Homo sapiens: one gene and its partner. The protein of the gene in region 1 purifies or fractionates together with the protein of each later gene. This does not show direct contact. Each region holds a gene or a part of one and is shown in the gene's direction. Other genes may lie near its edges.

The links. Proteins that work in one complex are often made in the same cells at the same time.
Region 2: the proteins of COL2A1 (region 1) and P4HA1 purify together in Homo sapiens (affinity purification with mass spectrometry; one large-scale study listed by BioGRID and IntAct). This does not show direct contact.

What each region holds. Positions count from the first base shown.
Region 1 is NC_000012.12:47,997,977-48,003,274, reverse strand, and holds part of COL2A1 (collagen alpha-1(II) chain isoform 1 precursor), read left to right. Parts: intron 1-1,721; exon of another isoform or gene 1,722-2,290; intron 2,291-3,149; coding exon 3,150-3,356; coding exon of another isoform or gene 3,357-3,359; intron 3,360-4,843; coding exon 4,844-4,860; intron 4,861-5,073; coding exon 5,074-5,106; intron 5,107-5,210; coding exon 5,211-5,243; intron 5,244-5,298. UniProt on the Homo sapiens protein: Type II collagen is specific for cartilaginous tissues. It is essential for the normal embryonic development of the skeleton, for linear growth and for the ability of cartilage to resist compressive forces.
Region 2 is NC_000010.11:73,089,066-73,094,363, reverse strand, and holds part of P4HA1 (prolyl 4-hydroxylase subunit alpha-1 isoform 2 precursor), read left to right. Parts: intron 1-5,298. UniProt on the Homo sapiens protein: Catalyzes the post-translational formation of 4-hydroxyproline in -Xaa-Pro-Gly- sequences in collagens and other proteins.

The sequences.
Region 1 (5,298 bases):
ACGGTTGCTACAACTATTTCAACCGGTATAGTTAGAGATGGCTCTTGTAGTCGGGTCCAAATGCTGTTCGGACTGCACCTTTCTACCCCTCCTTTGGTAAGGTCCACTGTCTGGGATTATATTCAGGACAAACGAAGCCTGGAAAGTGTATTAGGTAGAGAGGATTTTTTTTTCCACGTGTTTGGGCACGTTTCCGACGGCTGGGATTCCAGCCCTGTCTTTGTATGTTACAGATTGTAAATCAATCGCAGAGGGAAACTCTTCGGCGGGGGGAATAAAAGTTCTCTGCCTTCGAGGCTCTGTGGGCCCTCTCCTGCCACCAGGCTGTTTCCAGGGATAGCGTGGAAGGCGGCGGGCTCAGGCGGGCTTTCCGGTCATTAGCGCAGCGGGGGCAGGGCTGGAGCCTGCGGCGCAGCTGCGAGGAGCCGGGAGCAGGAGACTCTGGCCGGGTCACCCGGTAGTGCGCTAAGCTGGAGGCGCGCTCCTGGGCATTTGAGGAATACAGCGTGACTATACGTGGCCTGGACTCAGACTGACTATATTTTTGTACTACATTTACAAGCACACGCCCACAAAGCTGTCTTCTTGACTGACCCCTGCCTTAGTGCGCAATGGAATTAGCTGGGTGGCTTTAAAATAATTCTCAAATTCTCCATCCGGTATTAGGGTCGCTTGCTTAATTAGGCGGTAGAGCTCTCTCATCGCCGCATCTTTCCTGGGAGGGAGTGATTCCACAGCTTCTCCGGCCCAAACCTTCCAGTCGCTCCTCCTCCCAGAGGGAGTGTGATTCTGCATCCGAGAGGCTGATTTTGCGCCCTGGAGCATCCCACCTTTTATAACTTCCCCCGCCTGGGGTCAGCGGACCCAAAGGTGTGACGTGGGGAAATGCGCAGTCTGCGTGGACGTCAGGAATGTCAGACACCTAGAGCTCGGCCACACCCCTCCTCTCCATCTTTCCACGAGTTTGAGAAACTTACTGGCGGCGGCGTCTTTGACCCTCATCTGCATTTCAGAGCCCTCGCCTCCGAAAGTGCCCCTGGCTCAGGGGAGAGATCTCAATCCTCCTTTGTGAGGCTTGTTTGCATTGGGAGATTGGCAGCGATGGCTTCCAGATGGGGCTGAAACGCTGCCCGTATTTATTTAAACTGGTTCCTCGCGGAGACCTGTGAATCGGGCTCTGTGTGCGCTCGAGAAAAGCCCCATTCATGAGAGACGAGGTCCAGTGGGTTCTCTCGTACTCCCAGACCCCCTCTCCCACAATGCCCCCCTGTGCCCGCCCGCCGCCACCTCTCGGCTCCAGCCCTGCGCAGAGCGGCGGTGAAGCAAAACAGTTCCCCGAAAGAGGTAGCTTTTTAATTGGCTTGCCACAAAGAATCACTTATACGGCCCTGCGGTAATGAGGGGAACCGGATCAGGCGCGCCGGGATGCTATCGGCAGCCGTTTTGGAGCAGCAATTATGGTGGTGCTGGGCTCCTCCGTCCACACCTAGGGGATCCGGTTACGGCGCTGGCTCCTTTCTGGGGCAGTCATTTAATCCCACTTTTCACTCTCCCGGTGTCTGTGAGCGAGCCGTGTCCAGAGCCGCAGCCACAGAGTCACTCAGCGGCTCTTACACCCAGCGCAGCCTGGCCCCGCCCCTGCGCCGGCGCTTCCCGGGCCGCCCTTCCCCGGGAAATCTGATCCGCACGGGGAGTGGCCCCTCTCCTAGCATTTCCCCCTCTCCTCCCTGGGTCCTCATGGGCGAGGGTGGGCTCTCCTGTAGTCTGGGCTGGAGCGCATTAACCGATGCCCCCTCTCCCACACCTTCCTCACCGCCTGCATTCCACTGCTCCAGCTATTTTAACGGCGGGTGTGTCCCCGCAACTTCTGTATTTTCCCTGGAATCCCTCACCCTCCTGTGATTATCTTGCCCAAAGGCTAGGCGGATTTCTTCTAGTGGGAAAGTAAAAAGGAAAGTTTATCTTTGGATTTTCACTCTCTTTAAAGAGCAGTGGGCAGGCTCGTTTCTTTCTCGCCCTCTGGGTTTGTGGCTCTTTCCTATTATTCATCCCCTGCTGCTGCTATTGCCTTGGGGATTTTGATGAGAAAAACAGCGCTGGGCGCTCCCTAGCACGTGGTGCGGGCTCTACAGCCCTTGGCTGCTAAGGAGCGCTCTTGTCAGCACAGGTTTCATTTGCAGCATGAATTCCAGACGGCAGGGCGCTGGTGGAGGAGACTAGTCCCTGCTATTCTTCCTCTGCAGTCTTGGAGGAGGCCAGGCCTGGACTGGCCAATCTTAGCCCTAGCCAGGTATTCAACGACCCCTGCTCCCCAAACTGGGGTGCTGTTTTCAGATGGAGGCAGGGCCTCTCCAGGCAGGGCTACAGGTGGAGGTCAGCACTGGGGGCGCTTTGGCTCCACTGGCCTCCTAAGCAGTTTATTAGCCTGCCCAAGCCCCAAGTGTATTGTTTGAATGGGTCTATCCCCCTCCCCAAATTGGTCCTAATTCTAATATGGTTCAAAGAATGAGACAAGATCCTAATTCTAATAGCTCGTCTTTTCACCCCCCTTTCTTATATACCTATTTTTGGAGCCTCACTGCTTATAGATTCCAATTTTTGTAGGTAGAATTTTCTACATTCCCTCTGAATGTTAGTTGTCAGTTGTATTTAGCTAATCCCATAATTCCCAGAGGAAGGCAGAAGAAAGAAGACTTCTCTGCTCCTGGGCTGGTGGAAGGGAGGTCTCGCCATTTTTCTGTCTCCTTTCTTTTTATAGTCCCAGAATTCCTATTCAGAATATCTTGTCTCCTCCCTTCCGCTCACCCTCCAACTCCCTCCACCCACTCCATCACCTGGTCTCCCCCGTATTAGGTGGGTAAAGAGAATATAGTATAGTAACCCCCCACCTTCATTGCTGGGTCAAGATTTTCACTGGTGAATAGACAACATGGTGCAAGGTGCATAATAAATATTTGTTGAATACATGGAAAAATCAATGATGTTTTAGGAAAATAATTTTTAAGTTCTATATGTCCAGGTGGCCCCAGCCTACATTCTTCAGCATTTGAATTCTGTCAAGTTGACTGCAACCTCTCTCTTTTTCTCTCTGGCTCCCCACCCCCTCCTTCCCTTGGCTCTCTGCTTCTCCCTCCCCACCCTTGGTGCAGAGGAGGCTGGCAGCTGTGTGCAGGATGGGCAGAGGTATAATGATAAGGATGTGTGGAAGCCGGAGCCCTGCCGGATCTGTGTCTGTGACACTGGGACTGTCCTCTGCGACGACATAATCTGTGAAGACGTGAAAGACTGCCTCAGCCCTGAGATCCCCTTCGGAGAGTGCTGCCCCATCTGCCCAACTGACCTCGCCACTGCCAGTGGTTGTAATTTATTTATTTCCTGTTCAACATAAATAAATTACTTGCAAGCACTGCAAACACGCTCCCATAGATGCTGGTCGTCTCTGCAAAGCAGAGGGGCTAGTTATCCATGGGACCTGGTAGCTGGGGTAGAAAGGAAAGGCCACTTCTCACTTGCAGGTTGAAACTGAGTGAACGAGCCTGAGACACTAGAGGGGTCCTTCTTTGCCCAACATCTCCAAAAACATTTGCTTCCAAGACACATGAAGGACAGATGTGATTCTACAAAAAAAAAAAAAAAAAAATCCTCTCTGAAATCATCTCTGCAAATTACTAGAGCCACTATGGAGATCAAATGCTCTGTCTGGCCAATCCACGAATTAATTCCTCCTCTGCCACCGACACCTTGTCTTCTCCTTAGAAGACTTCTATGTATGTGGTCTTCAGTGTGGAGAAAGCTCTGCCAGCTAGTGGGGAGACTGCAGGGGCAGAGGCTCCCTCTTTGAGTTATGGAACATTGGTGGTAGTTTCCTCTCTGCTATTACCTCTCTTGGAGTTGACCATTAATTCAGAAGCAAAATAATAGGAGAGGGAAGGGCTAGGCTTTGGGAGTTCTCGTGGGGACGGGTGGAGACAGAGCCCCATGTATCTGCACTGTAGTGGGTGGTTATAAACTCCCAGTTAGATCCAGTGCTGGTGGATGATATATGTGCAGGTGACCCCTTCCCAGCATTCATACAGATGTCCTATCTCCCTGCAGAGTGAGTGGGGACGCTTGTGTAGGTTTTTTGGGTAGCTCTTGCTGTCCGCTTCCTGCTGAAGTAGAGAAGGCCGTGGCAAGGGAAGTGAGAAGCTGCCTTTCCTTAACACTTCACCAACACTGGCTCCCTAATGTGCAGATTCCCAGATCCTTTCTGAGGGGCCCGTGTGAGTGAAGTGTTGATTGCCTTTACTATTTTGCTGCTACTGTGAAGGAGAGGTTATTGACTGGGGATGGCACAGGCTATGATGCTCCGATGCTCTTCATAACTCATATGCCTTGCTGTTTTTGTGTTTTTATTTGTGCTTGCTTCAAGGAGACCCAGCTCTAATGTAAGACCTTTCTAAGTACCTAACTCTTCCTCTGGGAGGGCTTGGGGTTCGGGAACGGCTCCCTACCCTGTGGGGGGAAGAGAGACTGAATCTGTGCTTTCCTTCTTGTGGCTGATTAGATCTTGAGCTCTTCATTGCCTTTTTGTGCTGCCCTTGCTCCTTTCTTTTGCATGCTGCCTGCTTTTTGAATAACAAAGTCTGGGTCACCTCCATTCCTCATGGGACCTCAGCAACCCCAGGGCCACAGTGGCCCTAACACCCCAACAGAGGGGTTCAGTGGAGTCACAGGAAGCTGCCGCCTTCCTTGATTGTGTCCTTTTACTTGTTTGATCTAATGAGTGTTTGAGTGACAAGAATAGGTATTTTTCCATCTCAAGATTCTTACCTTCTTCTTCTCTATATTTTTTCCCTTGCAGGGCAACCAGGACCAAAGGTAAGGGCTTTCTTCTTTTTCTTTTTTCATATTTTTTTGGCTTTATATTTTCTGCTTCAAAAGCAATGCTATGTTAATCCAGTCTGTGATTTTTTAGACATCAGAAGATATCTGTTTCAGAGGGTACCTCAACACAGGGGCTGCTGGCAGGGTTTTAGACTAGGGGCTTAGTGGGCTTACTCGGCTTAATCCTGTGAATGTTTCATGTTTCAGGGACAGAAAGGAGAACCTGGAGACATCAAGGATGTAAGTGCAAATTATTCTCACCCGGTATTGCAGCTGCTGCTCTAAATGGGTCATTTCCTTGTGCTCTCCTCTAACTTACCATCCTGTGGGGCTCTCTCTCACAGATTGTAGGACCCAAAGGACCTCCTGGGCCTCAGGTAAGAGAGGGAGAAATCTCTTTCTCCGTCCCTTCCTCGCTGCGCGCAAGTTACT
Region 2 (5,298 bases), on another chromosome or scaffold:
CCTAAAAAGTAAGAGATGTGAAGTTACTCTCTAAGGGTATCTAGGTGTCTTGAGGCAGTATTGAATGTTTCTGAAAATCGAGCTGGGCATGTAAGTCTGACTGGACTTGTATATGTGGGTGACCCTAATACATTTTTGCCAAAAGGGTTTTAACAAAAGTTAATAGGTTGTTAGAATTGTTGAAATGCTAAATTGTCTAGTCTGTGAAAGTATATCACATTGCATGCCCTCTCCTATATATGGTAACTTAACTTTGGTTTTCCATTCTGAAAGTGGAACAGGCTTGGAAGTAAACAAAAATAAATTGCATAGGCTCTTGGCATTAAACTTTATTGCTTTTCTTGCAGTGAGATCTTGAATCTTGTAATTAAACCATAATGTGTTGTGTGTGTATAAATATATGAATATATATAAAAAATCCAAATAAAATGAGTATGTGTGTGTGTGTGTGTGTGTATATATATATATATATATATATATATATATATATTTTTTTTTTTTTTTTTTTTTTTTTTTTTTTTGAGATGGAGTTTCACTCTGCCACCCAGGCTGGAGTGCAGTGGTGCAATCTCGGCCCACTGCAAGCTCCACCTCCCGGGTTCACGCCATTCTCCTGCCTAAGCCTCCCGAGTAGCTGGGACTACAGCCGCCCACCATCACGCCCAGCTAATTTTTTGTATTTTTAGTAGAGACGGGGTTACACCGTGTTAACCAGGATGGTCTCGATCTCTTTACCTCGTGATCTGCCCGCCTTGGCCTCCCAAAGTGCTGGGATTACAGGTGTGATCACGCCACCGTGCCCGGCCAAAGCTTTGTGTTTCTATTCAAGAAAATTTATTTGTATAAATTGAAGCTGTCCTGTCATTAGGACAGCTTCAGTTTCTCTAGTTGAATAAGTATTGTACCTAAAGAAAAGCTTTGGCAATTCAAAAGGACTCTCATTTAGGTTACTCCAGCAGTTTTTAAACTCGGTGTGGTGAAAAACATTCTTTTTCCTGGTCTTCCTTTGGATGATCAGTATGACTGTTAGTATATTTGATTTGACATTTGCTAAAAATACATTATAGAGATTCAGACTTCTTACCTAGTTGTCATCAGTGAATGAGTTCTATATTGGGCCTTTCTCTTCCTCATGTTTAGTGTTTCATAAAAATGTGTCCATATTACTCATTTCTTTCTTAAATAGTAATATTATGTGGAATTAGTACACTCAGCCTTACTCTCTCTTTTTTTTTTTTTTTTAAGAGATAGGATCTTGCTCTGTTGCCCAGGATGGAGTGCAGTGGTGTGACCATAGCTCACTGCAGCCTTGAACTCCTGGGCTCAAGCAATCCTTCTGCCTCAGCCTCCGGGTGTAGCTCGGGGTACAGATGCATGCCACCATGTCTAGCTAATTTTTTAATTTTTTGTAGAGATGGGATCTTGCTCTGTTGACCAGGCTAGTCTCGAACTCCTGGCCTCAAGTGATTCTCCCATCTGCCCCACAAAGTGTTGGGATTATAGGTGTGAGCCACCATGCCTGGTCATCCTTACTCTCTTGTTGGACACTTGAGCTGTTTCTCCATTATAAGTAGTGCAAAGAGAGGACTGTAATTTAGTGGTTTATTTTATCAACCTGTATAATTACAGTAAACTTTAACCAATTTTTTAATTTTTAAATTTATATTTAAATTTTTTTTTTTTTAGAGACAGGGCCTTACTATGTTGCCCAGGCATGGTGGCTCACACCTGTAATCACAGCACTTTGGAAGGCCGAGGCAGGAGGATCACTTGAGGCCAGGAGTTCAAGACCAGCCTGGTCAGCATAGTGAGACCCCATCTCTCTACAAAAAAAATTTTTTTTTAATTAAGGGGGCATGAGGTTGCATGCATCTGTAGTCTAACTACTTGGGAGGCTGAGGTGGGAGGGTCGCTTGAGCCCAAGAGTTGGAAGCTGCAGTGAGCTATGATAGCACCATTGCACTCTAGCCTGGGTGAGAGTGCAAGACCCTGTCTCTAAAAAAAAAAAAAAAAAAAAGAAAAGAAAAAAAAATTATTTACAATATGGCCAGTAGACTGTAGGAAAATCAAGAATGATGAGAAATGTTTCATAGGAGAAGTAGGACATAAAAATTACATGATATAGCACCATGTGGCTAACATTTTACTAGATATTAAATCTGTAGCACTGAATGGAAATGCATATCTAGATTCACATCCTCTACAACCATGAATTCATTTTTCCCTGTTCTAGTATACATGGTCTTATTTTGTCTCTCTTTACCTCAACTTGAGAAATTTGGATCTGGCATTAGAGTAAACAGATAATTGAAGACTAGAAAGAGGTAGACTGGGTGGAAATAAAAGTGGAATTTTGACAGAATAGCCTTGGGAGGGATGAAGCTGAGTATACCTGGGCCTCAGAGCAATAATCCATTTTTTAGGAGGAAAGGGACTGCTAAAGCCAGCTTTTGAGTATTCTACTCTGACCTGAGTGGCCTTGGTCTGAATAGCTCATGTTCAGAGATAAGAGTATATTTAACTTTTTTGTACTAAGAATAGTATTTGAGTAATGTTATAGGTACATATGAGAATTTGGCCTTCATCTCTGCCGAGTCAGTTAAACACAAGTTTCTCTAGATATTTCCATTACAAGAATCAAAGCTCTTTGATTTTTGGAACTTCAGTAAAACCCAAGAATGAATAGCCGAGAACTATCATACAAGTCATAAAATTAAAAGGCATTGAACAGTGTATGAAGCATCAGATATCCTGTTACATGTGTCTGCAACAATAAATTAAATATTGATTAACTGATTTTAAGTAGGCTCAAGACTTCTCTTACAGTTCTAATCTTATATTAACTAGATTTGCATATCTAATTTCTCCAAAAATATGATCAAGAAATGTTTATTTTAGTCTAGGCGTGGTGGCTCACATCTGTAATCCCAGTGCTTTGGGAGGCTGAGGTGGGAAGATCTCTGGAGCCCAGGAGTTCAAGGCTGCTGTGAGCTCTGATTGTTCCACTCCACTCCAGCCTGGGTGACAGAGCCAGACCCTGTCTCAAAAAAACAAAAAAAGTTGGTATTTCTAAAACCTACTGGTTGAATTTAGGACCTCAAAATGTTACTTGTGTGTGTGACCTTTGTTCTTGCCCTATGGTTCTGACAACCTTCCTCCTTTTTATTTATTTATTTATTTATTTATTTATTTTTTTGGTAAACTCAGGCAACATATTCATAGTCAAAGGTTACATGAAGACATTCTCAAATTTACATGATTTCAAAATTTAGTTACTTCTTTTTTTTTTTTTTTTTTTTTTTTGAGATGGACTCTCACTCTGTCACCCAGGCTGGAGTGCAGTGGCGCAATCTCGGTTCACGGCAACCTCTGCCTCCTGGGTTCAAGCAATTCTCTGCCTCAGCCTCCCGAGTAGCTGGGATTACAGGCACCCGCCACCACGCCCGACTACTTTTTTGTATTTTTAGTAGAGACAGGGTGTCACCATCTTGGCCGGGCGGGTCTCGAACTCCTGACCGGGGGTGATCCATCAGCCTCGGCCTCCCAAAGTGCTGGGATTACAGGCATGAGCCACCGCACCTGGCCTGCAGTTACTTCCTTTAACCTCAAAGATATTTTGAAAATAGACCTCAATTTACTATGCCTGAATTTAAAAAACCTTAATATTGTATTTGAAAATAGTGAATAGTGACCATTGCCACCAAGTAGAGTGATAGTAATAAGTAAAACACTAATCTTTGATATAAGGGTGATTACTAATAAATTGAATAAACTGATATATTTTAACGACTTTATTGAGCAAAATTGACAGGACAAATTGCATATATTTACAGTGTACAATTTGATAAATTTGACAAAAATATCTACTTAAAAAAATATCAGTACAATCAAGATAAGGAACATATCCATCACCTTCAAGAGTATCCTCAAGGTCAGGCACAGTGGCTTAGGCCTGTAATCCCAACCCTTTGGGTGGCCGAGGCAGGAGGACTGCTTGAGCCCAGGAGTTCCAGACCAGCCTGGGCGACATAGAAAGACTTCATCTCTACACAAAATAAAATAACATTAGCTGGGTGTGATGGTGCCTGCCTGTAATCCTAGCTACTTGGGAGGCCGAGGCAGGAGGATTGCTTGAGCTGGGGAGGTTGAGTCTTCAATGAACTGTGATTGTGCTACTGTACTCCAGCCTGGTGACCGAAATGAGTCTCTGTCTCAAAAAAGAGTATACTTGGCCAGGCGCAGTGGCTCACACCTGTAATCCCAACACTCTGGGGGGCCGAGGCAGGAGGACTGCTTGAGCCCAGAAGTTCAAGACCAGCCTGCGCAACATGGTAAAACCCTGTCTCTACAAAAAAATTAAAAAGCCAGGTGTGGTGTTGTGTGCCTGCAGTCCCCGCTACTTGGGAGACTGAGGTGGGAGACTCACCCAAAGCCTGGAGATTAAGGCTGCGGTGAGCCAAGATCACGCTACTGCACTCTAGCCGGGGCATCGGCAGTATCCTTATGACTTTTTGTAATCCCTTCTTTTGCTCCTTACTACCCTCTCTGTATCCCTAGGAAACCATTGTTTCCTTTCTGTTGCTTAAGATTAGTTTTTATTTTCTAGAATTTTATAAAAATGGAATTGTATATACGCTTTTTTTTTTTTTTTTTAGCACGGGGAATCTCCTTACACTCAGCATAATTTGAGATTCATCCATGTTGTTATGTGTTCATAGTTTTTTATTGTTGAATAGTATTTTATTTTATGAATATACCATGATTTTTTTTAACCCATTTACCCTTTGATGGACATTTGGATTGTTTTCACTTTTTGACTATTATGAATAAAGCTGCTATGAGCATTCATGTACAAGTTGTTGGAGAGAGATATGCTTTCTTTTCTCTTATATTAATGCCTAGGAGTGCAATAGCTAGATGTGATAGGGAAATATTTTTTCCCAGTTGTTGGCTTGTCTTCATTCTTTAAACAGTGTGCTTCAAAGAGCAGTTTCTATTCACAGACAACATGTCTGTGACTCTTCAAAAAAGCTCTAGTGAATAGGTTAATTCAGCAGAGTTGTAGCTTAGAAGGTCAATATACAACAGTAAATTGTATTTCTATATACTAATAATGAACAATTAGAAACTAAAGTGAAAAATTCCCATCTCATTAGCACTAAAAACCATGAAATACTTAAGTATTAACTTTTCAAATGGTGTGTAATATTTGTATGTTGAAAATTATGAAACACTGATTATATCATGTTCATGGATTAGAAGACTCAGTATTAAGATACCTACTCTTCTCAAACTGAT